4 linked regions of the Homo sapiens genome follow. The protein of the gene in region 1 interacts with the protein of each later gene in a pairwise test. Each region holds a gene or a part of one and is shown in the gene's direction. Other genes may lie near its edges.

Region 1 (7,027 bases):
CCCTGAGCTAGACATAGGGTGCTGATTGGTGTGTTTACAAACCTTGAGCTAGATACAGAGTGCTGATTGGTGCACTCACAATCCCTTAGCTAGACACAAAGGTTCTCCAAGTCCCCACTAGACTCAGGAGCCCAGCTAGGTTCACCCAGTGGATCCTGCACCAGGGCCCCAGGCGGAGGTGCCGGCCAGTCCCGCTGTGTGCCCGCACTCCTCAGCCCTTGGGCTTTTGATGGGACCAGGTGCTGCGGAGCAGGGGGTGGCGCTCGTTGGGGAGGCTGGGGCGCGCAGGAGCCCACGGTGGCAGGGGGAGGCTCAGGCATGGCGGGCTGCCGGTCCCCAGCCCTGCCCTGCGGGGAGGCAGCTAAGGCCCCGTGAGAAATTGAGCACAGCAGCTGCTGGCCCAGGTGCTAAGCTCCTCACTGCCAGGGGCTTGCGGCCAGCCGGCTGCTTGGAGTGTGGGCCTGCGGAGCCCACACCCACCCAGAACCCTCACTGGCCGGCAAGCGCTGCGCGCAGCCCCAGTTCTCACCGGCACCTCTCACTCCACACCTGCCTGCAAGCTGAGGGAGCCAGCTCCGGCCTTGGCCAGCCCAGAGAGGGTCTCCCACAGTGCAGCAGCAGGCTGAAGGGCTCCTCAAGCACCGCCAGAGTGGGCGCCAAGGCCGAGGAGGTGCCCAGAGTGAGCGAGGGCTGCGAGGGCTGCCAGCATGCTGTCACCTCTCACTATGAACATTTCATGTGCAGGTTTTTGTGTGGATATATTGTTAAACTCATTTAGGTAAATATGATCACTGGATCATATGGCAAGACTGTTTAGCTTTGAAAAAGACTACCCAATTGTCTTGCAAAGTGGCTTTTCCATTTTGCATCCCCACCAGCAATAAATAGAAATTCTTGTTGCTTCACATTCTTGCCATCATTTGATGTTGTCAATGTTTTGGATTCTAGCCATTCTAATAGGTATGTAATGGTATCTCATTTTTGTTTTAATTTGCAATTTCCTGATTACATATGATGCTGAACATCTTTTCATATGTCTATTTGCCATCCATATTTCTTTTTTGTTGAGGAGTTTGTTCAGATCTTTTGCCCACTTTTCTTTTTTTTCTTTTTTTGAAACGGCGTTTCACTCTTGTTGCCCAGACTGGAGTGCAATGGCATGATCTCGGCTCACTGCAACCTCCACCTCCCAGGTTCAAGCAATTCTCCTGCCTCAGCCTCCTGAGTAGCTGGGATTACAGGCTCCTGCCACCACGCCCAGCTAATTTTTATATTTTTAGTCGACACAGGGTTTAACCATGTTGGCCAGACTGGTCTGGAACTCCCAACCTCAGGTGATCCACCCACCTCAGCCTCCCAAAGTGCTGGGATTACAGGCATGAGCCACCATGCCCGGCCTTGCCCACTTTTTAACTGGGGTATTTTCTTATTATTAAGTTATCAGAATTCTTTGTATATGTTGGATGTAGTCCTTTGTCAAATATGTGTCTGGCAGGTTTTCTTCCAGTCTCTATGGCTTCTCTTTTCTTTCATTTTCTTGTTTTTTATTTTTTTTTATTTTTTGAGTCTTTCTCTGTAGCCCAGGCTGGAGTGCAGTGGAGTGATCTCAGCTTACTGCAACCTCCACCTCCCGGGTTCAAGCGATTCTCCTGCCTCAGCCTTCCGAGTAGCTGGGACTGCAGGTGCACACCAACATGCCCAGCTAATTTTTTTATTTTCAGTAGAGACAGGGTTTCACCATGTTGGCCAGGCTGGTCTCAAACTCCTGACCTCAGGTGATCCGCCTGCCTCAGCCTCCTAAAGTGCTGGGATTACAGGCATGAGCCACCATTCCCGGCCTCTTTTCATTTTCTTAACAGTATCTTTCACAGAGTAGAAGTTTATAATTTTAATGAAGTTGAATTTATCAATTTTTTTTGTTTCATGTATCATGCTTTTGGTATTATATATGAAAACTCATAGCCAAACCCAAGGTCAGCTAGATTTTCTCCTGTATTACCTTCTAGAAGTTTTGCAGTTTACATTTCAGTATATAACCCATTTTGAGTTAATATTTGTGACAGGGATGAGGTCTGTGTCTAGATTCACTTTTTTACATATGGATATTCGTTGTTCCAGCACCATTGCCTTTGTTTCTTTGTCAAGGATCAGTTGACTCTATTTATGTGGATCTATTTCTGGGCTCTTTATTTGGTTTCATTGATTCATTTGTCTGTTTCTTCACCAATACCACACTGTCTTAATTACTATCATTTTATAGTAAGTCTTTTTTTTTTTTTGAGATGGAGTTTTGCTCCTGTTGGCCAGGCTGGAGTGCAATGTCACGATCTCAGCTCACTGCAACCTCTGCCTCCTGGGTTCAAGCGATTCTCCTGCCTCAGCCTCCCAGGTAGCTGGGATTACAGGTGCCCACCACCACACCTGGCAATTTTTGTATTTTTAGTAGAGACGGGGTTTTACCACATTTGCCAGGGTGGTCTTGAACTCCTGACCTCAGGTGATCCACCCACCCGCCTCGGCCTCCCAAAGTGCTGGGATTACAGGTGTGAGCCACCACGCCTAGCCTAGTAAGTCTTAAGGTCAGGTAGTGTCAGTTTTCCACCTTTGTTCTTTTTTAATATTGTGTTGGATATTCTGGATCTTTTGCCTCTCCACATAAACTTTGGAATCAATTTGTCGATATCCATACAGTAATTTGCTGGGATTTCTTTATTGCAATTGCATTGAATCTATAGATCAAGTTGGGAAGAACTGACATCTTAACAATATTCATTCTTCCTATTCATGTGCATGAGATAACTATTTGTTTAGTTCTTGATTTTATCAGAGTTTTATAGTTTATAGTCTTTTCCCAGAGTTTTATATTTCTCCTAATATAGATCTTACACATATTTTGTAAGATTTATACCTAAGTATTTCAATGTTTGTGTTAATATAAATGGCATTGCATTTTTAACTTGAGCTTTCCATTGCTTATTGCTAGTATGTGGGAAAACATTTGACTTCTGTGTATTAACCTTACTTCTTGCAACCTTGCTGCAATCACTTATAAGTTCCAGGAGTTTTTTTGTTCTTTTTTTTTTTAATAGATTCTTTGAGATTTTCTGCATAGACAATCAGTCATCTGCAACCAAGGCAATTTTATTTCTTCCTTTCCAAAATATATATCTTTTATTTCCTTTTCTTGGCTTATTCCATTAGGTAGAACTTCTAGTATGATGTTGAAAGAGAGTAGAGAGAAGGGACATCTTGTCATGTTCCCAGTCTTAGGGGTAAAGCGTGTAGTTTCTCACTGCTAAGTATGGTGGTAGCTGTATGTTTTTTGTAGATGTTCTTAATCAAATTGAAGAAGTTCCCCTCTATTCCTAGTTTACTTAGAGCTTTTATCATGAATGAGCATTGGATTTTGTCAAATGCTTTTTCTGTGTCTACTAATATGATTGTGTGACTTTTCTCCTTTAGCCTGTTGATGTGATAGGTTTATGTTAATTGATTTTCTAATGTTAAACCAGCCTTGCATACCTAAAGTAACTCCTATTTGGTCATGTGGTATAATTTTTCAAATACATCATTGGATTCAATTTGCTAATATTCTTGGAGAGGAAGTTTGTTTGTTTGGTTGGTTGGTTGTTTTTTTTTTTTTTTCTTTGAGACAGGATCTCGCTCTTTTCCCCGGTCTGGAGTGCAGTGGTGCAATCATGGCTCACTGCAGTGAGAGGAAGATCTGAGAATTACCTCCCCTCCTTTCACTTGACTGGCCCATCAAACTCTTTCTTTGCTGCAAAACTCGCTGTTTTTAGTGCATTGGTTTTCTGAACAGCAGGCAAGATGAACCCGTCAGGCTGTTACTTGCTTCCAGCTGTCTCTTCTTCCTCTTCCCTCTCCTTCCCTCTCTCCCACCTCCTCACTCTACACCTTCTCCTCATGCTGCTTTGTTCATACTCTAGGTCTCAACTACCTGAGGCTCCAGCTCAGACTTCCCTTCTGAACCCCAGACCCACCCAGCATCTCAGCCAGCCAGCTGCCCACCCAGCATCTCAAAGTCCACCACCTTGTCTGCAGCGTGGAAAACTGCTCCTCTGTCAGGGCCTGCTGTCTCCCCAGTCACTCAAACCCAAACCGCCTAGGTTTCTCCCCTCTCCTTCTCTGCATAGTTGCCTTCAGTCCCTTCCATTTGGCAGCAATTCCTCTTCCCCCTCCTCCATCTCCACTGCTACAGTTTTGATTTAGGCCCACATGGCTTCCCAGAGACCCCCTCCTAGCTAGGCCCTTTGCCTCCAGCTCTGCAGAAGGCAAAGCTGATCCTGTGTGCACCCTCTGAACATCTCCAGCGCCTCAGGATAAAGTCCAGGCTCCTTAGCTGGGCAGATCAGACCCTTCTTCTGGTGCCTCCCCAAATGTGCCCTGCCCTCTGGCCATTCTGAACCTTTCATAGTTCCCCACACTCATCACATTCTCTGCACATGCTGTTCTGGCAGGAGAGCCCGTTGCCCCCCACTCAGGCACCGTCCCTTCCCCACCCAGGTGAATTTCTTCTGCATTCAGCTTCAAATTGACTGAGATGCCTGTCTCTCCTGCAGCTTCTCTCTCCCCAGACAGCCTCTCAGAGTGCTTAACACCTCTCATTCTCAAACCAGCTGAACGTTAGGCTCACCTGGGAAGCTTTAAAAATACAAAAATGTTAGCTGGGCGTAGTGGTGCATGCCTGTAGTCCCAGCTACTCGGGAGGCTGAGGCAGGAGAATCGCTTGAACCCAGGAGATGGAGGTTGCTGTGAGCCGAGATCGTGCCATTGCACTCCAGCCTGGGCAACGAGAGTGAAACTCCATCTCAAAAAAATAAAAATAAAAATAGACACCCTGGCCACAGCCCAGATAATTAATTTCAAATCTCCACTGGCCTCATGAATAGCACAGATTAGATACTAATACTCTGGGGGCCGGTCTGGACCACAGGTGTCCTCTCAGTGCAGGCATTACTGTCTATCCCAGAGGCTCCGTTGGGCCAAGAGCACCACTTTTCATACAGTGATAATGATAATTATTTCCATGCATTCTTCCACTTAATCTCACAAACTCCCTGTGAAGTTCGTAAGTATCAGAGTCCCATTTTACAAATGGGAAACGAAAGCAAAGAGGTTAAGTAATTTGCCTGGGGCACAGTGTACATTCAATGAGTACCAGTTCCTCAGTGACTTCAAGTGCAAATTGGGAGTAGAAAAGGAGAAAAGCTTTACAAGTTACTGTGTTCATTCATTCAGTGACAATTCTACAAATGACAGTTGAAGGCCTGTTCTGGGCAAGATGTTGAGATTTAGCAAATGAATAAGGTATTAGGACCCCTGCCCTTAAGAGGTCTCTTTGTAAAGGGAAGTAATGTAAATAAAATAATAGATAATTATAATACACTGAGGTTAAGTTTAGTGATCAAGGGGTGCCCTAGGGATTCTGGGAGTCCACAGAGTGCCCTGAGGGGAATCCTAGAGGCTAACTGGGAGTTAGTGGGAAGGTAAAGGGCTGGGATGGGGAGGCCTGGGAGGAAGGCCTCCCAGGTAGAGGAGTGGCTGAAGCCAGCCTCTGAGATGCCACTGGGCTTAATCCACAGCAGGAGCCACAAACCCAAAACATCTGCTGTGGCTGATGGGAAATAAAAGTGAATCCAGCAGGTTTAAGAGAAAGAACAACATTTATGTGCAGTGATAATGGGCAGCTGATGTGCCAGCTGCAGCATCTGGAGGTGGCAGGGACAGTGGTTTAATGGAAAGAACCTATTATGCACCAAAGGAACTCTCTGCATAGCAGCTGCTGTCCGTGTGGGACGATGGGCCCAGCATTGCCAGATCTGTAAACTTTTATAAAAGAAGCTGGTGTAAACTAAACATAAAATTCAGAGGCCCCCCATCCATCTGAATGGACTTCCTTCTCAGCCAGGGCACTCCAAAGTTAACCTGAAAGACCAGTTCAGGCCTTGATGGGAAGCAAGGGTTGGACACGCCTCATTATACCCTCCTCCCTTTTGGAATTCAGGAAAAGTTGACCAACATTTAACATCAACACAGACCTTAAGTCTGATAAGAAACATTTACAATCTATTCTCTCTGAAGCCTGCTACCTGGAGGCTTCATTTGCATGATCAAAACTTTTATCTCTTTTATTCTAACCCAGATATTCCTTTCTATTTATAGTAACTCTTTTAACCAATTACCAATCAGAAAAATTTTAAATCTACTTATCACCTGGAAGCTCCCCCCTCCCAACCTTGGAGTTGTCCTGCTTTTCTGGACCAAATCGGTATATATCTTAAATGTATTTGATTGATGTCTCAGGTCTGCCTGAAATGTATAAAACCAAGCTGTGCCCTGACCACCTTGGGCACGTGGTCTCAGGATCTCCTGAGGGCTGTGTCACAGGCCATGATCACTCACATTTGGCTCAGAATAAATCTCTTCAGACTGGGTGCAGTGGCTCACACCTGTGATCCCAGCACTTTGGGAGGCTGAGGTGGGTGGATCACTTGAGATCAGGAGTTCAAGACCAGCCTGGCCAACATGGTGAAACCATGTCTCTACAAAAACATACAAAAATTATCTGGGTGTGGTGGTGCATGCCTGTAGTCCCAGCAACTCAGAAGGCTGAGGCAGGAGAATTGCTTGAGCCCAGGAGGCAGAGGTTGCAGTGAGCCAAGATTGTGCCACTGCGCTCCAGCCTGGGTGACAGAGCGAGACTTCATCTAAAAAAAAAAAAAAAAAAAAGTACATCTCTTCAAATATTTTACAGAGTTTGACTGTTTTTGTTGACACTGGAAATCTGATATTGAAACTACAATTCTTTGAATGTTGGCAACAAATTCAAATCCTAACATAGTGTTCTGTAAGAGCCAAACAAAAATGTCTGTGGGATGTGTTAAACTAACTGTAGCCTAAAGCTGCCTTCTTATATATTCTAAGTTCAGCCTAAAGGTTTCTCTGTACGTAGTAAACTGTAACCTGACTAGGAATTTAAACAGACTGCAATCTACTCTTGTACCAG
Region 2 (7,027 bases), on another chromosome or scaffold:
TTAATTTTTTATTAAAATTTCATTTTTTTCTTGCTAATTTTTAACAGCTTTTATATATTAAAAATACATTTGTGATACTCTATAGTTTTTACTTTTTTTTTTTTTTCCGAGACAGGTTGTCACTCTGTCACTCAGGCTGGAGTGCAATGGTACAATCTTGGCTCACTGCAGCTTCCACCTCCTGGGCCCAACCTTTCCACGCACCTCAGCCTCACAAGTAGCTGAGACTACAGGCTCGCACCACCATGCCCAGCTAACTTTTTTGTATTTTTTTATAGAGACGAGGTTTTGCCACGTTGCCTGGGCTTGTCTGGAATTCCTAGGCTCAAGTGATCCACCTGCCTCCGCCTCCCAAAGTGCTGGGATTACAGGCATGAGCCACCAGGCCCAAACAGTTTTTACATTTTTGTCATTTGTCTTTTCAACCTTCAAAACAATCTATCTTTTTCTTTTATGATTTCTTTTTTTTGGTGTTATCCTTAGGCCTCCATCTTACTAGGATTATATAAATAGTCATCTATATATTCTTCTGTTCTTTTTATGGCTTAATTTTTTACTTTGGAGTATTTGACGATATATCTGAAATGTACTGGATGTATCAATGTATTTGAAATGCCTTATTGTACATGAAATACTTATAAACTTGCTTTCATTTCTGGACTTTTTGTTTTATTGATTTCTTTGTTATGAAGACAAGGCATTGTTTTAATTAGGCTAACTTTAAAATGCATTTTAATATTTAGTTACGCAAAACCACCTTCATTTTTCTTTTTTTCAAAAATCTCTCAGTTCTTTGTGCATGATTATTCTCCTGTATGGGATGTAGGATCATTTTATCAAGTTTCCTTGCAAAAATTCCTATGGGGATTTTAATTTATATGATTAAATATGTAGAGTAGTTTGTGGACCATTGATGTCTTCCTTTCTGGAATATGGTATTTTCTACATTTACGTAGGTCTTCCCTTATGTCTGTCTCTAAAATTTGTAGTTTTTCCCATATTGTTCCTGTGTATTTCCTGGAAGTATAACACTTAGTATTTTACATTTCTTTTTTTTTTTTTGAAACGGAGTCTTGTTCTGTCGCCAGGCTGGAATGCAGTGGCGTGATCTCAGCTCACTGCAACCTCCACCTCCCGGGTTCAAGCGATTCCCCTGCCTCAGCCTCCCAAGTAGCTGGGATTATAGGCACATGCCACCACGCCCAGCTTTTTTGTATTTTAGTAGAGACAGGGTTTCACTCTGTTGGCCAAGATGGTCTCGATCTCCTGACCTCGTGATCCGCCCACCTCAGGCTCCCAAAGTGCTGGGGTTACAGGTGTAAGCCACCGCACCCAGCCAGTATTTTACATTTCAGTTGCTAATATGAAATGAATCATTTGTTCTAATAGTTTTTGATAATGTAAGAAAGTTAGTGATTTTTGTATATTTATTTTGTAACTGTCCATCTTATAAGACCATGCTAAATGGATTTTCACTATAGAAGGTTCCGTCAGACAGCAATGTGTAGGAAGGATTAAAGATATGATAATGGCAATAAAACAATTTATGATTATATAGCTATAATTCAGATTAAAAGTGATAAGAACCTTAAAGAATGTAGCAATGAAGAGGAAAATATTGATGGGTTCTGGAAATAAAGTGGTGCAATTGAGAATTTGATTCTTAATTGTGTGTGTGCATGAGGAAATGTCAGATGGTTTTCTGATTTGAGCAATTTAATTTACAGTAGTGGTTTTACCTGAGATTTGAATTATAGGAAGGAAAATGAACATGACATAGTGTTGGTGATGGTGAAGAGATGATGAATTCTGTTTAGGGCATGTTTAATTTGAGAGCATCAAGGTGAAAATTTGATAGGCTGGTGAATAATGGATTTGGAGTTTACAAGTAATGCCTGAACTAGAAATAATAATTGGATGAGATAATGTACAGGAAATGTGTAGAGAATATGACAGGATAGAACCCTAGGGACCACTGGTATTTAAGAGATGGACAAAAAAGGTAACCTGGTGAGACATTGAAAAGCTGGGATGGAGAATCAAAGCCAAATTGCAGGCTTGGCGTGGTAGCTCATGCCTGTAATCCCAGCACTTTGGGAGACCAAGGCCAGAGGATTGCTTGAGACCAGGAGTTCAAGACCAGCCCTGGCAACTTAGCAAAACCCTATCTATACAAAAAATTGAAAAATTAGCCGGGCGTGGTGGCATGTGCCTGTGGTACCACCTACTTGGAAGCTGAGGCAGGAAGATCACTTGAGCCTGGGAGGCTGAGGCTGCAATGAGCCATGATCATGCCACCGCACTCCAGCCTGGGTGACAGAGTCAGACCCTGTCTCAAAACAAAAACAGACAGACAAAAAACACTACCAACAACAACAAATACCCAGAAATTTATTTAATTGTCTGGAAGTAGAAATGGGGACCTAGGAAGTTGCTGCTGCTCTGCTGCTGCTATATGTGGGCTCCACAGATTCCATCCACAATGGAATAAGGAAAATAGAACTTTGCTATAAAGGTACTTCAATGCAAATGTAGATGCAGATTGAACCTTTAGGTGAAACAACAGATTTGATGAAGCTCGGATCGACCTATCCTGTTTGGGAATGGAGAGTGGGGATTAATACAATTTAATATTCAAAAATTGGTGTATCCATTCAGCCAAGTGATATCCACGTGCCTTCCTTCTTTCTCCAGAGTTGGCCCTTTGACCTACCCTTCCCTGCCTCAATCTTAACTGTATTCAAATACTAGAAGGCTAATCTTCCTCAGAGCCTTTTAGTTATGGAACAGAATCTTGATTTTTATCATCAGATATACATATCATCAAAACATTTGTCCTCAACAAATTTGGTAAATGTGCCTTCACCCAGATTATTGATATAAATTTTGACTAGTTCAGGATGTCTCAAGCATCTGAAGACCAACCATGCTTTGGCATAATTCCTCTCTGGTGACACTTGTTAGCACAGTCTAGGTGATGGCCTCCCCTGATTTTGTTCACTGATGTCTTTTTATAATACCACTTTCCCTCGTACAGAGAGAGAGATTGTGTGTTTGTGTGTGTGTGTGTGTGTGTGTGTGTGAGACATTTGTACTCTCTACCTTCTTTATTCAAATTTATCTTCTTGTTCCCTCAACACAGAAGCTGTGTCTAGTGAGTCTGCTTCAGTCACACAGATATTCTAGTTTTAGTTCCTCTTCATGCAGGAATACATGTCTCAGTAAAAAATTAAAACTTTGGATTTAAACAGTGTTTAATAGTATCTTATCCAAAATAAATAAAGTGTAACTAATGCATACTATTGCAGAGAGCATATCCCAGGCATTTAAAACGTAGGAATTCTCATTTTAGTGTTTCTTCTTTTACTCTGAGGATTGATTCTATTTACCAAATGCTTCTAGTAAAGGATATATGAGGTTCCAAACAGAGATCTGTAGCATCAGGGATGTTATATTTGTGTAGTGTCAGCTCCTGTCTCTGGGAGTTCTGAGCATTCTTGTGTGTGTTGATGTAACTGAACCTGAAATTGCTTTTCCATGATAATGTATTTTATGTTTCAGGAGACAAATTACATGTTTGTCATAGGGACAGTGGGAAATGTCAATAGTAGGAACCCTGCTTTTTGATGATGATAATGACTCCCGACCTTCATCTGGGTGATTTGCTGTACCCAACGGCCATCAGTAATTGAAGCCAAGTAGCCAGGCACAGTGGCACCTGCCTGTAGTCCCAGCTACTCAGGAGGCTGAGGCGGGAGGATGAGGCAGGAAGATCTCTTGAGCCCAGGAGTTCAAGGCCAGCTTGGGCAATATAGAAAGACCCTATCTCATTTTTAAAAATAATTAATTAATTTTGTAAAAGGAAATAAATTTTTTTAAAAATTGAAGCCCAGTGAGAAGTTTATGTATTTCTAGACATTGTATCTGTTGACAAAATATGTAAGTATTTGATAGAAATTTTTGCAATAATGAAAATAACTACCATTATTGAGTACTTAATAGATAGCTGGCTTTGCAAAACCCCCTGTGTATTATCTCTTGTAATCCTCCTTTAAGTCAGGTACTCTTACTGTCCCCATCTTACAGTGAGGAAGCTGCATTTGACAAGGTCACACAGCTAATGGGTGGGAGTTTGGAGAGTGGAGTTGTGGATCTCAGACTCAGGACACTATCTCCTTTGGTTCACTCAGTTCAACAGTTTGGTTTTTTGTTTTTATTTTATCTAATTGTCATTGAATCTACAAATCTGTCTTATAGGAACAAGTGGTGATGAACTTGGACAGCAGGCTTCTGATCTTCCCTTTATATATCTGCTGTAACTTCTTGTATATATCACCAGAAAAAAAGAATTGAAAATAATCGTCACCCAGAAAATCCAGAAAACTGAAGATTTCATCAGTTGGAAACAGTAGCACTTTGAAAACTTTTTAGGCCAGCTTTAATTTAATGGCCCTACTGATATTCACATCGAAGGTGACTAACAATGACAAAGGCCTTATGAACTGTACAGACAATACAGAAGATTATTCTTATCCTCATTGCATTTCTATGCATATGCGTAAGAACATTTTAAAGCCAAGAAAATATCTGTCAAACCATTTCTGTTAGAACGATGTCAATTCATGCTTTTAATTTAGCATCAATAGAAAATTGCTGTAGGTAAATCTCACATTTATCTGCAACAAAATATAGATTTAATTTTTAGCTTAAACTTTGTTTCTACCTTATGTTAGTGGACCTCAGTTATCCATCTGTAAATTTCTTTTTATTTGGCTAAAATAATCTAAAAGAATAATTTGGTTGGCCAATTAGAAATGCCTTTTTCAGTTGGTGTATTGAAAGCTTTCCTTTAACATTTTCACCTGCTCATTGTGATTCCTCCTTTTAGTCTAATATCTTTCCAGGTCATACTTGTTTTTAATCATTAAATATTTTCTTCCTGGTTTTGGAGACTAAGCTGATAAACTTTTTTTAAAACTTAAGCATTGTCATTGCTATTTTTTTTAATTTGACTTTCCTAGGAGTTTAAGAACAGTGAAAGTTAGCTTTGCACCTTCAAATGATCTTGAATGAGGGAAAAATCAGTTTGATTCCAAGGATATTTCTTGCCTTACATGGTCTTTTCTTTGACAGTCTGTACACCTTTATTATTAGGTTTTGAATTATTTATGTACCAGATATTATAGTTTTAAACATTTTAATATTCTCTGATCTTTAGAATTATTTATGTTCAAATTTTAGTTGGGAACTTTGTTTCCTACTTAAGCTCAGGACTTTTTACCCTCTGAATTGAGTGCCTTTGAGTGACACATGCTAATAGAAATTTCATAGTAAATGTAAATAAGGTCAGAGGATGTAATATGGAGCCTGATGATGAAGCATTAATGTAAAAATGGAACTTATTTTTGTCAAAAATGAGATGTACACTTGTCATGATTTATGTATGTTGACCTTTTGTGTTTATTACTGTTTTGAAAATAGCCATGTTCATTTTCTTTCCAGTTAGAGTAAGTACTTCTGTGGTTAATGTATATTTTTATTATGGTTTTTAAAATGGGAATCATTTTTATGTATCTGTGCAAATAATAAATGCCCATTTGGAAAAAGAGTAAGCTCTTACATAAAATGGACCAAAAAATCCCCCTTAATTGAAACCAAAATTTTTTCTTTCTAGTTAGGTTTTTTTCCCAACTCCTTTTAACTTTTGGAATTTATTAATAATTTTTTTCTTTTTTAATGATATGCCCATAGGTTCATAAATTGCTTTTGTTCTTTTAAAATTCATCCATTTGGTTTAACTTAAAGGAACCTTTTAAATGCCTCACCCTTGACCCTCAGAGCTGGAATTTAAATGTTTCTAATACAGTGATTTGGCTGTTATCAAGAGGTTACATTTCAGCTGGGTGTCAGCCAGGTGTGGTGGCTCACACTTGTAAGCCCAGCACTTTGGGAGGCCGAGGCAGGCAGATCATCTGAGGTCAGGAGTTTAAGATCAGCCATGACCAACATGGTGAAACCCCATCTCTATTAAATACACAAAATAAAAATTAGCCAGGCATGGTGGCACACGCCTGTCATCTCAGCTACTCAGGAGGCTGAGGCAGGAGAATCACTTGAACCCAGGAGGCAGAGGTTGCAGTGAGTGGAGATTGCGCCATTGCACTCCAACCTAGGCGACAGAGTGAGACTCCGTCTCAAAAAAAAAAAAAAAAAAAAAGAGGCTACTGTACTTATTTTTATATTTGACTACATTAGGTCTTTTTCACGGGAAGCTGTTGTTTTCTTTCCGTCTCATTACTGTATAAGAGTTTCCTTACCCTTTATGTATTGAAAAATATATAAATTCCAAACTTAAATTATTTGGATAATTAAGTTTTTGCAGATCTTGGAAGTAAAGATAATGTTTTGATCATATTAATGAATAAAGTTAACTGTTTCATTTCACTTACATAAGTTAACTGGCCAAATTGGATTTATATGTGGTTTCATCCATTGGTTCTGTCCTGGCCAAGTTGCTTATGTCATCCATAGACAGGATAATTCTTTCTTCAATCACAAGTAGGTTAATGTTCTTATTTGAGAAGTTGATAATTGTCAGGTAGTAATTCACACTGGTAGTAAAGATGTGCTTTTGTTTTCTTACCAAATATTTTTATGTGTTTCCAGAGTTCTTTTCAATAGAAATATTTTCAATAAAGTGTTAATAGTGTAAGATAAAGTATTGTATAAACCATGGTTTGTGAAAGCTTTGTGTTTTGTCAGCTTTTGTCTTACAGCCTCTACTATTTTTTTATGCTAGAGCTAGAAAACAATATTTAATTTTAAGAATGATTTGTGTTTGTCTATTAGTAAGGAAGAGGTCTTTAAGAGAATATGTCCTAGAGTTTCACACTAAGTTATTAAGAAGGGATATAAATACCTTTCCTTTAAAAAAAAATGGTTTGGCATGGAAACTTAGCAAGATAGGCAAAACCATGTGGAGAACAGTGGTAGTCACTGTTTTGTTTTGTTATGTTTTGTTTTTAAG
Region 3 (7,027 bases), on another chromosome or scaffold:
TTAATGCAGATTGTACTAAAGACTTAAAATCTTATGTAATGTTTGCAAATCATTTGCTTTAGTTTCCTTTTGTTCAATAAGCAAAACGATTTTAGAAACCCATACTTTATTTTTTTTGTTCCAGCTCTGTTCAGATTAAGGTTATACTTAAAATAATCCAAACTTTAAAATAGAAATTAGATGGGGATGATTTAATGGAGAATAATTTTCAAAGTGTTTGTTTGGGTAGCTAATTCACCCTTTGCAATTACAGTACAATATTTACACATAAAAAAGTAATTTACCCACAACTTTTTGGAACATACTTAGGTACACCAAGCCACATTTTTTTGTGGTCAGTCTTGTGACTTGTTAGAAAAAGCAGCTGGCTGCCTGTGTAGAGCCAGACTTACACTTGGATTGTAGTTTAATTTTTGTCTTTTTACCTTTTTTTTTATTTTTTTGAGACAGAGTTTCACTTTTCACCCAGGCTGGAATACAGTAGTGTGACCTCGGCTCACTGCAACCTCCACCTCCTGGGTTCAAGCGATTCTCCTGCCTCAGCCTCCTGAGTAGCTGGGAGTACAGGCACCCGCCACAATGCCCAGCTAATTTTTGTATTTTTAGTAGAGACAGGGTTTCACCATGTTGGCCAGGCTGGTCTTGAACTCCCTACCTCAGGTGATCCACCTACCTCGGCCTCCCAAAGTACTGGGATTACAGGTGTGCGCCACTGTGTAATGTTTTTACATTAAAAACAAATTCCTGAATTAATGGGCATATTTGCTTAATATATCCATGGTTGCTTTGACTTCTGACTGTTGAGCTTTTCAATTATCATTTAACTTTTGGTTAAATTCACTTTTGAAGTTAGTTTTTTGGGTTTGTTTTTTGTTTTTTGTTTTTAGATGGAGTCTTGCTCTGTCACCCAAGCTGAAGTGCAGTGGTGTGATCTCGGCTCACTGCAACCTCTGCCTCCCAGGTTCAAGTGATTCTCCTGCCTCAGCCTCCCAAGTAGCTGGGATTACAGGCGCACACCACCACGCCTGGCTAATTTTTGTATTTTTAGTAGAGACAGGTTTTTGCCATGTTAGCCAGGCTGGTGTTGGACTCCTGACCTCAAATAATCCTCCTGCCTTGGCCTCCCAAAGTGCTGGGATTACAGGTGTGATCCATGGTGCCTGGCCTGTTTTTAATTATTTTTTTTATTTTTTGAGACAGTGTCTTACTCTGTTGCCCAGGCTGGAGTCCAGTGGTGCAATTATGGCTCACTGCAGACTCAACCTCCCAGGATCAAGTGATCCTCCCAACTCAGCCTCCCAAAGAACTTGGACCACAGGCGCACGCCACCATGCCCAGCTAATTTTTGTATTTTTTGTAGAGATAGGTTTTGACCATGTTGTCCAGCTAGTCTCGAATTCCTGGGCTCAAGCTATCTGCCCGCCTCAGCCTTCCAAAGTGCTGGGATTATGGGTGTGAGCCACTGCGCCCAGCCAAGTGTAGTCTTACATGTTAGTGTTTACAGAGGAACTGTACGACCTTTGTGCAGATAAATATTTCATAACAAGAGGTTCGTTATTGGTCAGGTTGCTGTTCTCATCTCCTTAGCAAGGGTGGGGATAATGGTAAAGAAAACTTGTGTGTTTGATTTTCTTTTCTCAGTATCTTCTCTCTTCTGAATTTGAATGTTTTAAGGAATTAAATCAAAGGTGGATGAGCTAAAAGCAGCCTATGACCGGGAGGAGTCTACAAACTTGGAAGACTATGAGCCTAACACTGTAGCCAGTTTGCTGAAGCAGTATTTGCGAGACCTTCCAGAGAATTTGCTTACCAAAGAGCTTATGCCCAGATTTGAAGAGGCTTGTGGGAGGACCACGGAGACTGAGAAAGTGCAGGAATTCCAGCGTTTACTCAAAGAACTGCCAGAATGTAACTATCTTCTGATTTCTTGGCTCATTGTGCACATGGACCATGTCATTGCAAAGGAACTGGAAACAAAAATGAATATACAGAACATTTCTATAGTGCTCAGCCCAACTGTGCAGGTACATGGTCTTCTCTACACATATACCCTCTGGTACTGACATTGGGGAACTGGGGTAATTTTCTATTGCTGAGTCACATGTAAAGCAGTGAACTTGAGGAGATAGGTAATGGATTAGCTTGAATACGGGTCTTTTCCTTTCATAATTTGGACAGTGTCAATGTATAAGATAACATACTTGCCCTTTAGCTTGTAGTGATGTAATTTGAATGCGGTACAGTCTTTGATGTGGGTTTATAAACAAGACCTGATGACAAGGATCCTTCATTAGGGGAGGAGGAGCCCATGGCATCTACAGTTATAGAGTTCGTGTGTAGAATTTTAGAGATCCCAGTTATTTAATCAATAGCATTATTGCTTCGTTAGATCACAGACACACATCAAACTCAGGCACAAAGGGACCTGTCATTAATTGTTTGGTCAAAGATTTAGCCTGAGGATTTCATTCATAAGGATGGATCCTAGAGAGACATGTTATAGGCTCTGAATCTGAAAAGGAACTTCAGGGAATTGGGTAGTGTGTTAATTGGTATCTTTTTACGACATACATACTTGGCTTTCCTTTATTGCTGCTCAGTTGGTGCTGTCATAGAGTATATGTTTTCTTTTAATTGCAGTTAATGATATTTTACTCAGGCCAATAAAAAGGGAGATGATAGGTTATATTTATTATCTTAAGCCCTCTTTTTGGCCAGTATTCTGAGTCACCATAAATCACTGTCACTGTTATTAGAGAGTGTTTTCATTTACTAAAGAGCGTTTCAGTCAGGCGCGGTGGCTCACACCTTTAATGCGAGCACTTTAGGAGGCTGTGGCAGGAGGATAGCGAGAGGCCAGGAGTTCAGCCTAGGCAACATAGCAAGACCCTGTCTCTACATAAAAATTAAAAATTAGCTGGGTGTGGTAGCATGTATGTGTAGTCCCAGTTACTTCGGAGGCTGAGGTAGGAGGATTGCTTGAGCCCAGCAGTGAGCTATGATCATGCCACTGTACTCCTCTCTGGGTGACAGAGCAAGATTTTATCTCTAAAAAATAAAGATTCTTCTGTTACTCATTGATTACGCTTTGAAAGCAAAATGTTTCTCAGATTTTAGTTTGATCATTAGGATTTCAGGATCTGGTAAATATTACATTGATACTTAATATTACTATAATATAATAGAGATGGTTGTATCATAGAAGAGTCAAGTGTGTTGTAAGAGTAAGTTTTAGGTAGGAAATAATTTCTTGTAGTAGCTTTTCAGCCAACCTAATGCCCTGGCCTCCTAGCATATGAACATCCATACTTAAATGCTGGCTGTGTCCAGGTATTTGTTTCTGGAGTGAGGGCTTTCAACCTCAACCCAGCTTTACTACTGTGGTGCTCCCACTTCCCTCATGGTCCTCATTCATTCCATTGCGTCTGTTAAAATATGTCAAAGTAAGTTGAAAATAAAGAATATAAGATGTTTTAGCCGGGCATGGTGGCTCACGCCTGTAATCGCAGCACTTTGGGAGGCTGAGGTGGGTAGATCATTTGAGGTCAGCAGTTCGAGCCCAGCCTGGCCAACATGGTGAAACTCCGTCTCTACTGAAAATACAAAAAAATCAGCCAGGTATGGTGGCACACGCCTGTAATCCCAGCTTACCGGGGAGGCTGAGGCAGGAAAATCGCTTGAACCCGTGAGGTGGAGGTTGCAGTGAGCTGAGATTGTGCCACTGCACTCTAGCCTGGGCTACAGAGCGAGGCTCCATCTCAAAAAAGCACCACCACCGCCACCAACAACAAAAAACACACAAAAAATAAGATGTTTAAATCAGTTAATACTGTGATAGAAAAAATAAACAAATGGATGGCATCAACTTCTCTATCCTTTTCTTGACTTTTTTTCCCTTCAGATCTTTCTGGTGCTTGAATACATGATTTAACTCATATTTTACCATTTTCTTCTTAAATTGGCTATTAACTAGCAAAGACTGTGTTGTCATTACTGGGTAGAATTTTCTTTATGTGTCCAGGATTAAAGGATATATTATGTAATAGACACAAATAAGTGAAATAGAATGATAGTTTTAATGGTTTTCTTGTAAATCTTTTTTTCTTAGATCAGCAATCGAGTCCTGTATGTGTTTTTCACACATGTGCAAGAACTCTTTGGAAATGTGGTACTAAAGCAAGTGATGAAACCTCTGCGATGGTCTAACATGGCCACGATGCCCACGCTGCCAGAGACCCAGGCGGGCATCAAGGAGGAGATCAGGAGACAGGTGTGTGCACCCTGCCTGCCACAGCCTGCCTCTGCATTGGCTGTTGTGGAGTCCAGTGGTGATGGGCTCTTGTTTCCTGAACACTTTCTGTGTGTCTGGAGCTATGTTAGGCACACTGAAGTCAGAAATTCCCATCTGGTACTGTTTCATGCCAAATAAGTCAGAATACCATGGTGGAAAGAGCATAGTTTTTGGAATCAAAACACCTGGCTTTAAATTCTTGCTCTGATCTAGTTAACTGATTTTAGGCAAATTCTTAACCACCTTAAGCACTGGTGTTCTTGCTTTAAAATGGATCCTCTTATAGGATTGATGTGAAGATTACCCCAAATGAGATAATATATGAAACATGCCAGGCACGTTGTAAATAGTCTAAAGATGTTTGCCTTTTCTTGACAAGGTTGCTGTCATCAGCCATATTTTATAGATAAGAATATTAAAATTCAGGGAAGTTAAGTAACTTACCCTGTGTGACATGATTACTAATTACAGACCCAAGATTTGAGCCCAAATCCTGGGATTTTTTACTGTGCTATTTTGATGGAAGTAACAATGCCGTGTGTGTGTGTGTGTGTGTGTGTGTGTAATTCAAGACTAAATAAGAAAGTTAATTACATTTGATTATTTATTTGCATGCAATTTATCAAACCCCTGCTTGCTTTTCTTCCCTTGTATCTGCCCTGAGCTCCCAATGCTTACTAGTTAATGATGATGACATTGGAGATGGGGATGTGGATTAAGTATTATTGAACCAATACAAATTAGTGAATAATTAATAGGCAAAACAATAAGAATGATTTTTCAATCATATCTTCAAAAAAATAATTAGTGCCATTATTTTACTCTAATGAAATAAAGGATAATTGAAAAATAGTTGATTCTTCATCTTTAGAAATTGCACGTGTTGTTAGTTTAAGATAAGAGGATATGAAATGCAACTAGGTGTGTGGCATTTGCTTTCTAGGAGTTTCTTTTGAATTGTTTACATCGAGATCTGCAGGGTGGGATAAAGGATTTGTCTAAAGAAGAAAGATTATGGGAAGTACAAAGAATTTTGACAGCCCTCAAAAGAAAACTGAGAGAAGCTAAAAGACAGGTGAGTTATTATTTTGATACCTAATGTTTATAATAGAATGTGTTTGAGTCTTTTATGTACTTTATGTACTCTTTTTTTTTCTTTCTTTCTTTTTTCTTTTGATGTTGACCAGGGTGGTCTCAAACTCTTGGCCTCAAGTAATCCTCCCACCTCGGCCTCCCCCAGAGTGCTGGGATTACAGACATGAGCCACCACCCCCAGCCCAAGTTCTTTCTGTTAAGAATATTATAATGTCACTTGAAGTGAACTTCTCTGGTGGGACATTTATTCACTAAAATGTTTCTAGTCCTATATTATTGATATTGCAGCCTGGTGTCAGTCACATGTTTCAGTGTAATCTAGAAAGTTTTTTTTTTTTTTTTTTTTTGAGACAGGATCTTGCTCTGTCACCCAGGCTGGAGTGCAGTGGCACGATAATGGCTCACTGTAGCCTCGACCTCCTGGGCTCAAGGGATCCTCCTACCTCAGCCTCCTGAGTAGCTGGGACTACAGGTGTGCGCCACCATGCTCGGCTCATTTTTTATTGTTTGTAGAAATAGGGTCTTGTTATGCTGCCCAGACTGGTCTCAAACTTCTGGGCTCAAGCAGTCCTCCCACCCCCCAAAGTGCTAGGATTATAGGCATAAGCCACCATGCCTGGCCTAGAAAGTTTTGTTTTAATTAAAAATGATTTTACTAAAAAATTTGTCATTTCCTGCTTGGTTATACCTGTAAACAGGGCTTTCTATGGATGAAAAACAGGCTGGATGGTGACACACCTTTGGGGACTGCTGGGGAATTTAAGGCATTTAGAATTAGTCAGCTCTTTGGAAATGTAGTGATGAGGGTCACCTGGAAGGCCTTGAAGATCAGGAGAGATTCTATTTATGTAATAATAATAAGAGTGGCCTGCAATACCTGATGAGTTTAGGGTATGCCAGTCAGACTTTTGAGTTCCCTCTTGTTTAGTGTGTGTTGCTTGGTTCTGGGACTGTGAGTGTACCAGCCACAGCAATGGTAAAATCCCAGATCTCTGGATCACCTTAAAATCCACATTGCAGATCAACTGCAGCATCTAAACAGCACATCCAAGGAACATTAGTTAGCCCTTGCCTGAATTGGGGAACATGATAGTAGGTCTCTGTTGTGGTTGTGTTAAAGAGACAAAGACAACCTGAATACTTCTGTTTCTTTGAGGTTAGAGATTTGTATTAATGTGGAGGATAGCTTTGTCACACGGGGCACATTCATGGGACTTTTACACGTGCGCTCCAGGATATGTAATGTAGCAGAAGCCCTCTGCGTATTTTTCTTCCTTCTTTTTCCTAGCTCACTAGGTTATCTATCTCTTGCTTCCTTTACGTGTTTTTTGTTTTTGGTGTTGGTGTTGCTGTTAAAATTTTCCCTTCATGTCTCAGCCTAGAATCAGGTATTAGAGATGGACCACTCAGGCTTCAGGGGCAAATTGTAATTGTTAATCATATGGCATTGCCAGTCAGCCTTTAAATGAAGAGTCCCCTGACTGACCTAGGACAGGGCTGATGGAGGTTTGGCTTTTGTTTCTCTTGCTTCTACATCTTGCCTAAATAAAGGAATCATGGTATAGCAGCCAGAACCAATATAAGAAGGGATGGATTAACTTTGCTTTACCGATTTTCCCGATGCTATGTTTTCACGCCAGC
Region 4 (7,075 bases), on another chromosome or scaffold:
AGAACCATTTGTTGAAAAACTATTTTTTCCCATTGAGAAGTCTTAACATATTTGTCAAAAATCAATGAATCAGGCCGGGCACGGTGGCTCACACCTGTAATCCCAGCACTTTGGGAGGCCGAGGCAGGTGGATCATGAGGTCAGGAGATCGAGACCATCCTGGCTAACATGGTGAAACCCTGTCTCTACTAAAAATACAAAAAATTAGCCAGGCGTGGTGGTGGGCGCCTGGAGTCCCAGCTGCCCGGGAGGATGAGGCAGGAGAATGGCTAGAACCCGGGAGGCGGAGCTTGCAGCGAGTGAAGAGCACACCACTGCACTCCAGCCTGGGCGACAGAGCGAGACTCCGTCTCCAAAAAAAAAAAAAAAAAAAAAATCAATGAATCATAAATATGATGTTTATTTTTGGACTCTCAATCTTATTTCATTGATCTACATTTCTAGTTTTATGCCACTACCACTCTGAAGACAACTGTGGCTTTAAATTTTTTAAATTGTATTAAAATACACATAACATAAAATCATCATTTTAGTCAATTTTAAGTGTACAGTTAAGTGGCATAAAGTACATTCACACTGTTGTACAACCATCACCAGAACTTTTCCATCATCTCAAATATAGTATAGGGAAATGTGAGTAAGAGGAACTTTTTTCCTGTTTTGGAAAGAAAAGTTTATCTTGGCTACTCTGGGTCTCTTGCATTTCTATATTATATTTTAGGATTAAATTAGCTTCCTGATTTCTACAAAAGAGACAGTTGAGATTTTGATGGGAACTGGAGATGTGAGATTTGTAGATCAATTTGGGGAGTAACAGATTTTAACAATATTAACTCTTCCAATCCATAAACATGGTATGTCTTCTCATTTATTTTGGTCTTCTTTAATTTCTTTCCACAGTCTTATGTAATTTTCAGTACATAAGTCATGGACATCTTGTGTTAATTTATTCCTATTTTATTCTTTTATTTTTTTTGAGATAGGGTCTCACTCTTGTTGCCCGGGCTGGAGTGCTGTGGTGTGATCACAGGTCACTGTAGCCTCGAACTCCTGGGCTCAAGCAATCCTCCTATCTCAGCCTCCTGAGTAGCTAGGACTAAGGCATGCACCACCACACATGGCTAATTTTAAAATATTTCATAAAGGCTATGTTGCCCAGGCTGGTCTGCAACTCCTGGTCTCAAGCAATCCTCTCACCTTGGCCTCCCAGTGTTGGGATTACAGGTGTGAGCCACTGTGCCAGCTACATTTTATTCTTTTCAATACTATTGTAAATTGAATTGTTCTTAGTTTTATTTTTGGATTGTTCATTGCTGGTGTATAGGCTGTGTGTGTGTGTGTGTGTGTGTGTGTGTGTGTGTGTGGATTCCTTAGGATTTTTTATATACAAGATCATGTCATCTGCAAACAGATAGCTTACCTTCTTCCTTTTCAATTGGATGTCTTTATTTCATTTTCTTGCCTAATTGCCCTAGCTAGAAACTCCAGTACAATGTTGAAGAGAAGTGATAAAAGTGGAATTCTTGCCATGCAGAAAAGAGTGAACATAGCAGGCCCGAGACAATAATCCTCAGAAAGGTCTGCCAATCGGGCTGCCAAAATCCTTTTGTTGTAATGAATCATAGCCATGAGTAGGACTATCTCCTGAGTCCTGTAATCCTTGCGTCAAATCATTGAATCTGGTGTGATCTTGGGGAACCCTAATACAATTTTTGTTCCTGATTTTAAGGGGAAAGCTGCCAGTCTTTCACCATTACATATGATGTTAGATGTGGGTTTTTCATAGATGTCCTTCATCAGGTTGAGGAAATTCTATCTCTATCCCATCCTATTTCTAGTTTGTTGAGTTTTTTTTAATCAAGAAAGGTTAGATTTTGTCAAATGCTTTTTTTATTAAGATGATTATGCAGTTTTTGTCTTATTCTATTAGTAAGTTGTATTATATTAATTGATTTTTTTTAAGTTTCTTTTTTTTTAGTGACAGGGTCTTGCTATGTTGTCCAGCTGGACTTGAACTGGGCTCTAATAACCCTCCCACCACAGCCTCCCCAGTAGCTGGAACTAAAGACATGGGCCACCATGCCCAGCTATTAATTGATTTTCATATGTTAAAACCACTCATTCCTAAATCACACTTGGTCTTGGACTTCTATTAAAAGAGACACAAATTTTAAAAATCAACCAAACAAATACATAATTTCAAGTAGTGAAAGTGCTATAAGAATAAAAGAAAAAGCAGGGTAAGGAAAGAGAGAGCAAGAAAGACGGCGGTTATTCGAACTATATTCAGGGAAGGTTTCTCTGAAATAATGACATTTGATCAGAGATCTGAATGACCTGAAGAAGCGAGACATTCAGAGAAAGATAATTCCAGGTGCAAGGACTAGCAAACTGCAAAAGCCCTGAAGCAGGAACCCGCTTAGTGTGTTTAAGGTACAGCTAGAAGGCCATGTGGGCAAGAGTGGAAACAAAGTCAGAAAGAGATGAGAGCAGATCTTACAGGGACTTGTGGGTCATGGTACAGACATTTGGATTTTATTATAATTGTGATGGGAAGGCACTGAAGCATGCTTTTCAGCCTTCTTAAAAGACCTTTCTCCTCCTTAGTTTTCTGGCTAACTCCTATATGTCTTTCAAAATCTAGCATCATCTCCTCTGTGACATGTTCTTTAACTTCCCTGGTAAGATCAGTCCCCTCCTCTGTGACATCTCTGAGTAACAGATTACTGACCTCTTTTCACACTCCTAGTGACCTCATTTGTTTATTTTTTTCACAGAACTGTGTCTTTTTCATATTTTTAACCTCACGTCTAACATAGTGGTGAGTACTAAAGAAACGTTTGATAGGCCAGGCGCGGTGGCTCACGCCTGTAATTCCAGCACTTTGGGAGGTCGAGGCGGGTGGATCACCTGAGGTCAGGAGTTCGAGACCAGCCTGGCCAACATGGTGGAACCCTGTCTCTACTAAAAATACAAAAAAATAGCTGGGCGAGGCAGGAGAATTGCTTGAACCCAGGAGGCGCAGGTTGCAGTGAGCCGAGATCGCGCCATTGCACTCCAGCCTGGGCAACAAGAGCAAAACTCTGTCTCAAAATACAAACAAGCAAGCAAACAAAGAAATGTTCGATAAAAGAAAAACTCTGAGTCATTCAGTGGTGCAAGGTTGGATTCCTTTCAGACCCGACGTAGTTGTCGCCCTGGGAGGTCGGGTGCATTACTTCCCCCAGAGAAAGGTCTTGGGTTTCGGGGATAATGCCCTGGCTGAGAATGCCTCCTAGGGGGAGATCCAACTTCCCAACCGTCAGGTGCTTGCTGTGTTCCCTTTGCACGTCTCTGCCCGTCCTTCCTGGGTGGGACCTTGGTTGGCGGTGAGTGGGGGAAACTTCAGGCTTCCCAGCTCTGCCTCCGAACACTCCTGGCAAACACTTTCAAGGCCTAATCACAAACCCAGGTCCCCCACTTTCCTCTGTAACAACGGAAGTCCCAGCAGCGATGTCCACTCCTGTTCTGGGGCCAGCGTCGCACCGCTCACCCCGCACCTCATCCCTCCGCTCCTCCTTCCTTCTCCTCCACACCCTCTCGGCACCGTGCCCCCTTTCCTCACCTAGGATGCGCGTGATGCCCAGGGTCAGCTTCTCCAGGTGCGGCTTGCTGCAGCCCAGCCCCGGGGACGATGCCTCCTCCTCCATGGCTCGCGACCGCGATTCGCGCGCGGCGGGAGCGGGTGGAGGGCCGGACCCCGCCTCAGCGCCGAGGCCAATTTCATGGCATGCCGGGAACGGTAGTTCTCGGCGCCTGAAAGCGCGGCGCAGTGATGATGGGGGCCCGGGGTTGGTCTGACAGCAGCAGCTCCGTGGGGCGCCGGTTCCCGCGGCCCCGCCCGGTGCCCCACACCGCACCTCCGGGACGTAGCTTCCCCTTCGCCCCCACCCTCTCGCCCCGCAGGGGCCGGCCGCGCAGGCGGGGGCGGGCCTCTGCGTGGTGCGGCCAATGGGGACCGAGCCTGCAGGCCGAGGCGTGGCGGCCCAGGCGCGACGCCCCGAGTGGCGGTTGTTTCAAGATGGCGGACGTGGCGGGCCCCTCCCGCCCCAGTGCCGCGGCGTTCTGGAGCCGGGACTGTATCCTTTGCCCGCCTGACAGGGGGCGCCGGCGCCCTCCACGGGACGGCGAGGGGCGAGCCGTCGCGTGGCAGTCCGAGAGCGGAGGAGAAGCTCCGAACTAACCCCGGGGATGGGGACGTGCTGCTCGGCCCCAGTCTAGGTGCTGGGCTCTCCCCTTGCTTGGGTGTTAGGTGGCCGAGAGACTGGTACTGTCTGCAGGTGTGGGGACACGGCTCAGATGCTTCCCAGCGCTCACTACCGGTGAGCTCGAGAAAGATAGCCTTGAGTCCAGGCTCAGTCCAGGGCTGAGATGGCCCTCCGAGGTCCCTCTGCCCACCCTGTCAGAGTGCCCCCAGGCTGACTTGAGTGTGCGGAGCTAGCTCGAAGTTGAGGGAGGAGTCGGTGTTGGCTGGACAGGGAGCCTTTTTGTTTTGATTTAGGATTGTCTTTAGTCTGCATTGCTAGGAGCAAGTCAGGACCTTTCGGACTTAAAAGGCCCTCCAGTGATGATGTATTTTAATACTGGGGTTTTAGGAGAGGTGTGGAGCTTGGTTACTGGGATGTGGTCTGGTGGTGCTGGTTACTGCGTAAGATGGGAATCATTGTGCCTGGAAGTATTGTTGACTTACTTGTGGAGTGCGGGTCACTGGCAGTCATTGAAGTTCTTGGATCGTTGTGAGGTGGAGAAGCAGTGGAACTTTTTAGTCCAGTGGTAGTATTACCAGTTCAGCAGCAGTGATGAGATGTTTGTGTGACAGGAGTGTTTCTTTCCTTGGAGTAGGTAGACTCTTCTCGCTTGAGCTTTGGTCCTGATAATTTACTTCACGTTCCTTAGAGGGGTTACTTGAAAGAGGGACGGCAATCTGTGTTACTGAGTGCTTGCAGAGGCAGCTCTTTTTGTGTTTGCTAGGATTGGTGATGGCATTAATTGAGGCGTTGCTGTTACCTTTGGCAGAATCACTGGGCATTCTTCTTAGCTCCCAGTGAAACTTACAAAACTGTGTTATCAACTCCTTTGTTGAGTTACTAGGATTAGTGTCATGTGTAGAGAGAGGGATATGTTTGTATTCTGTGCTGCTCGTGTTTAGTGTTTGCACTTACTAGACATAATTACCATTTGTCTCTGATAGGTTGGTGAAAAGCAAATGAAATCATGTACATACACTGTGGATGAAAGCATACTAGTGCAGTGTGCAAATTAAATATTTTTTCCTTTACCTTTCAGAAGAGAATATGTGCACTGTGGACAACTGGGCTGAATTAGGAAGTTAGGAAATTGGGATAAGTCTTTTCTCAAGAAACACTGCTTCTGCATTGACATAATTTTGTGATGGAGGAGATACTTGAAGGTTATTAGCTTATAGCATCCTATGGTACTGTTCAAATATAGAATCAATGGTTTGGGGGGGGGACAAGCTATTGCAATGGGACTGAATAAGTGTATTAATAGATATATGGACTGAACCTAAGCTCTTGGTCTTCGCACCCAGTACTTTCACTTACTCATGTAGTTATATCACCCCCTATTTTATGTAGAAGTCATATATACTCCGTTATCTCTTGTATTCTGACTCCCAACATTTAATGTAAAATATTCGTCCTCTCATAGATAGTGAGGAATTGAAATTGTACAGGGGAAAAATGGTGGCGATTATATCCTATAAGATCTAATTCAGATGTATGAAAGGAATTGCAAAGTTGCTAGTGTCACCTTTCCCCTCAGACTATTCCACGTAATGACCAGTTAACATCGAGCCTCAGATATTTTCATTTTAAATCTCCATAGAGAATGTCACTGTAAGCAATGTCAAATGTAAATTTGTTACTGAATATTTGCTGAAAAGCATAATGATAGTTATTAATCATTTGATTTAGTTACATGTCTTTGCATCTTGATTCCTTTGTCATATTGATTATTTCCCAGACCACCCTAGAGCCTTTATAGTAGAATTTTCAATAGAAAAAGACCAAAAAGTAAGTACCTATAATCTGGTATTCTTTTCACACTATTGAAAAAAGATTTTCAATACTTCACCTAAACATTTAGAGAAATGTGATGGAGAGATTTCTTAGTCCTTGATGTTTCCATCATGAGAGGACAGATCATCTGTGACTCAATGGCACCTTTTTTTTTTATTGTTGTTGTTGTGAGTTATACATCTCCTGCACAGTATGATTCAGCAGTGCTGTTTTGCACAAGGAACGTTTTAGTACCTCATCTGTAAACAATGAGTGTGTGGTGTTGTCATGTTATGGGTTAAATCTTCCAGCAAAATATGCTCCTTCAGTTTAAGTTGCCTTTGTCCTTCATTACAGTTCCTAGTAATGTCAGAATGAGTTAGTGTTTCAGCAGTACCTAAATTTGACTGCTTAAATGCACTCAAGTGTATTACCATTAGCAATATCATGGACTTGATATTAAAAAATATGAACTGCAAGTGACCTGGTCAAAACATTGCAGTATAATCTCTGCTGTTGAGTTTTCAAATGGAAACAAAGACTGTATGTTGTGGTAAAAATAATATATTAGCCCAGAAAGTCTCTGTGGTTGATAATAATTACATATACATGTATTGCTGGCAAAACTCAGCAGATTAGAGTAGAATGGGCAGTACTGAACTTATTTCCTTCAAATCCTGGAGGTCTGGGATAGAGGTGCATCTTCCTCTCTACCACTTCTGCCTGGGTTTCTAATTACAGTTAGCCCTCTGTATCTGCTGATTCATTCAAATGTGGATGGAAAATATTTGAGAAAAAAAAGAAATAGCACACAAAAAAATACAAATTAAACTGTACAATTTAACTACTATTTATATAGCATGTACATTGTTTTAGGTATTATAAATAATCTAGAAATGACCCACTAGTAGGCCCACTATACATTTGGTATATAATGTGTCTGTTTGACTTCCCCATAAAATATACATTTGTTGGGAAATTCTAGATTTGAAGGAGGTAAATATTTGGGTTCTTAA

The links.
Region 2: the proteins of CCDC13 (region 1) and GMCL1 interact in binary tests that used the Homo sapiens proteins (3 or more experiments, as listed by UniProt).
Region 3: the proteins of CCDC13 (region 1) and RALBP1 interact in binary tests that used the Homo sapiens proteins (3 or more experiments, as listed by UniProt).
Region 4: the proteins of CCDC13 (region 1) and KIAA1328 interact in binary tests that used the Homo sapiens proteins (3 or more experiments, as listed by UniProt).

What each region holds. Positions count from the first base shown.
Region 1 is NC_000003.12:42,763,227-42,770,253, reverse strand, and holds part of CCDC13 (coiled-coil domain-containing protein 13), read left to right. Parts: intron 1-7,027. UniProt on the Homo sapiens protein: Required for primary cilia formation and promotes the localization of the ciliopathy protein BBS4 to both centriolar satellites and cilia.
Region 2 is NC_000002.12:69,874,652-69,881,678, forward strand, and holds the end of GMCL1 (germ cell-less protein-like 1), read left to right. Parts: intron 1-4,257; coding exon 4,258-4,353; 3' UTR 4,354-6,733; downstream 6,734-7,027. UniProt on the Homo sapiens protein: Possible function in spermatogenesis. Enhances the degradation of MDM2 and increases the amount of p53 probably by modulating the nucleocytoplasmic transport.
Region 3 is NC_000018.10:9,520,486-9,527,512, forward strand, and holds part of RALBP1 (ralA-binding protein 1), read left to right. Parts: intron 1-1,674; coding exon 1,675-2,024; intron 2,025-4,108; coding exon 4,109-4,270; intron 4,271-5,234; coding exon 5,235-5,366; intron 5,367-7,027. UniProt on the Homo sapiens protein: Multifunctional protein that functions as a downstream effector of RALA and RALB. As a GTPase-activating protein/GAP can inactivate CDC42 and RAC1 by stimulating their GTPase activity.
Region 4 is NC_000018.10:36,825,079-36,832,153, forward strand, and holds the start of KIAA1328 (protein hinderin), read left to right. Parts: upstream 1-4,048; 5' UTR 4,049-4,060; coding exon 4,061-4,118; exon of another isoform or gene 4,119-6,074; intron 6,075-6,088; exon of another isoform or gene 6,089-7,075. Other genes in the region: TPGS2 (tubulin polyglutamylase complex subunit 2), read right to left, coding at 3,605-3,689. UniProt on the Homo sapiens protein: Competes with SMC1 for binding to SMC3. May affect the availability of SMC3 to engage in the formation of multimeric protein complexes.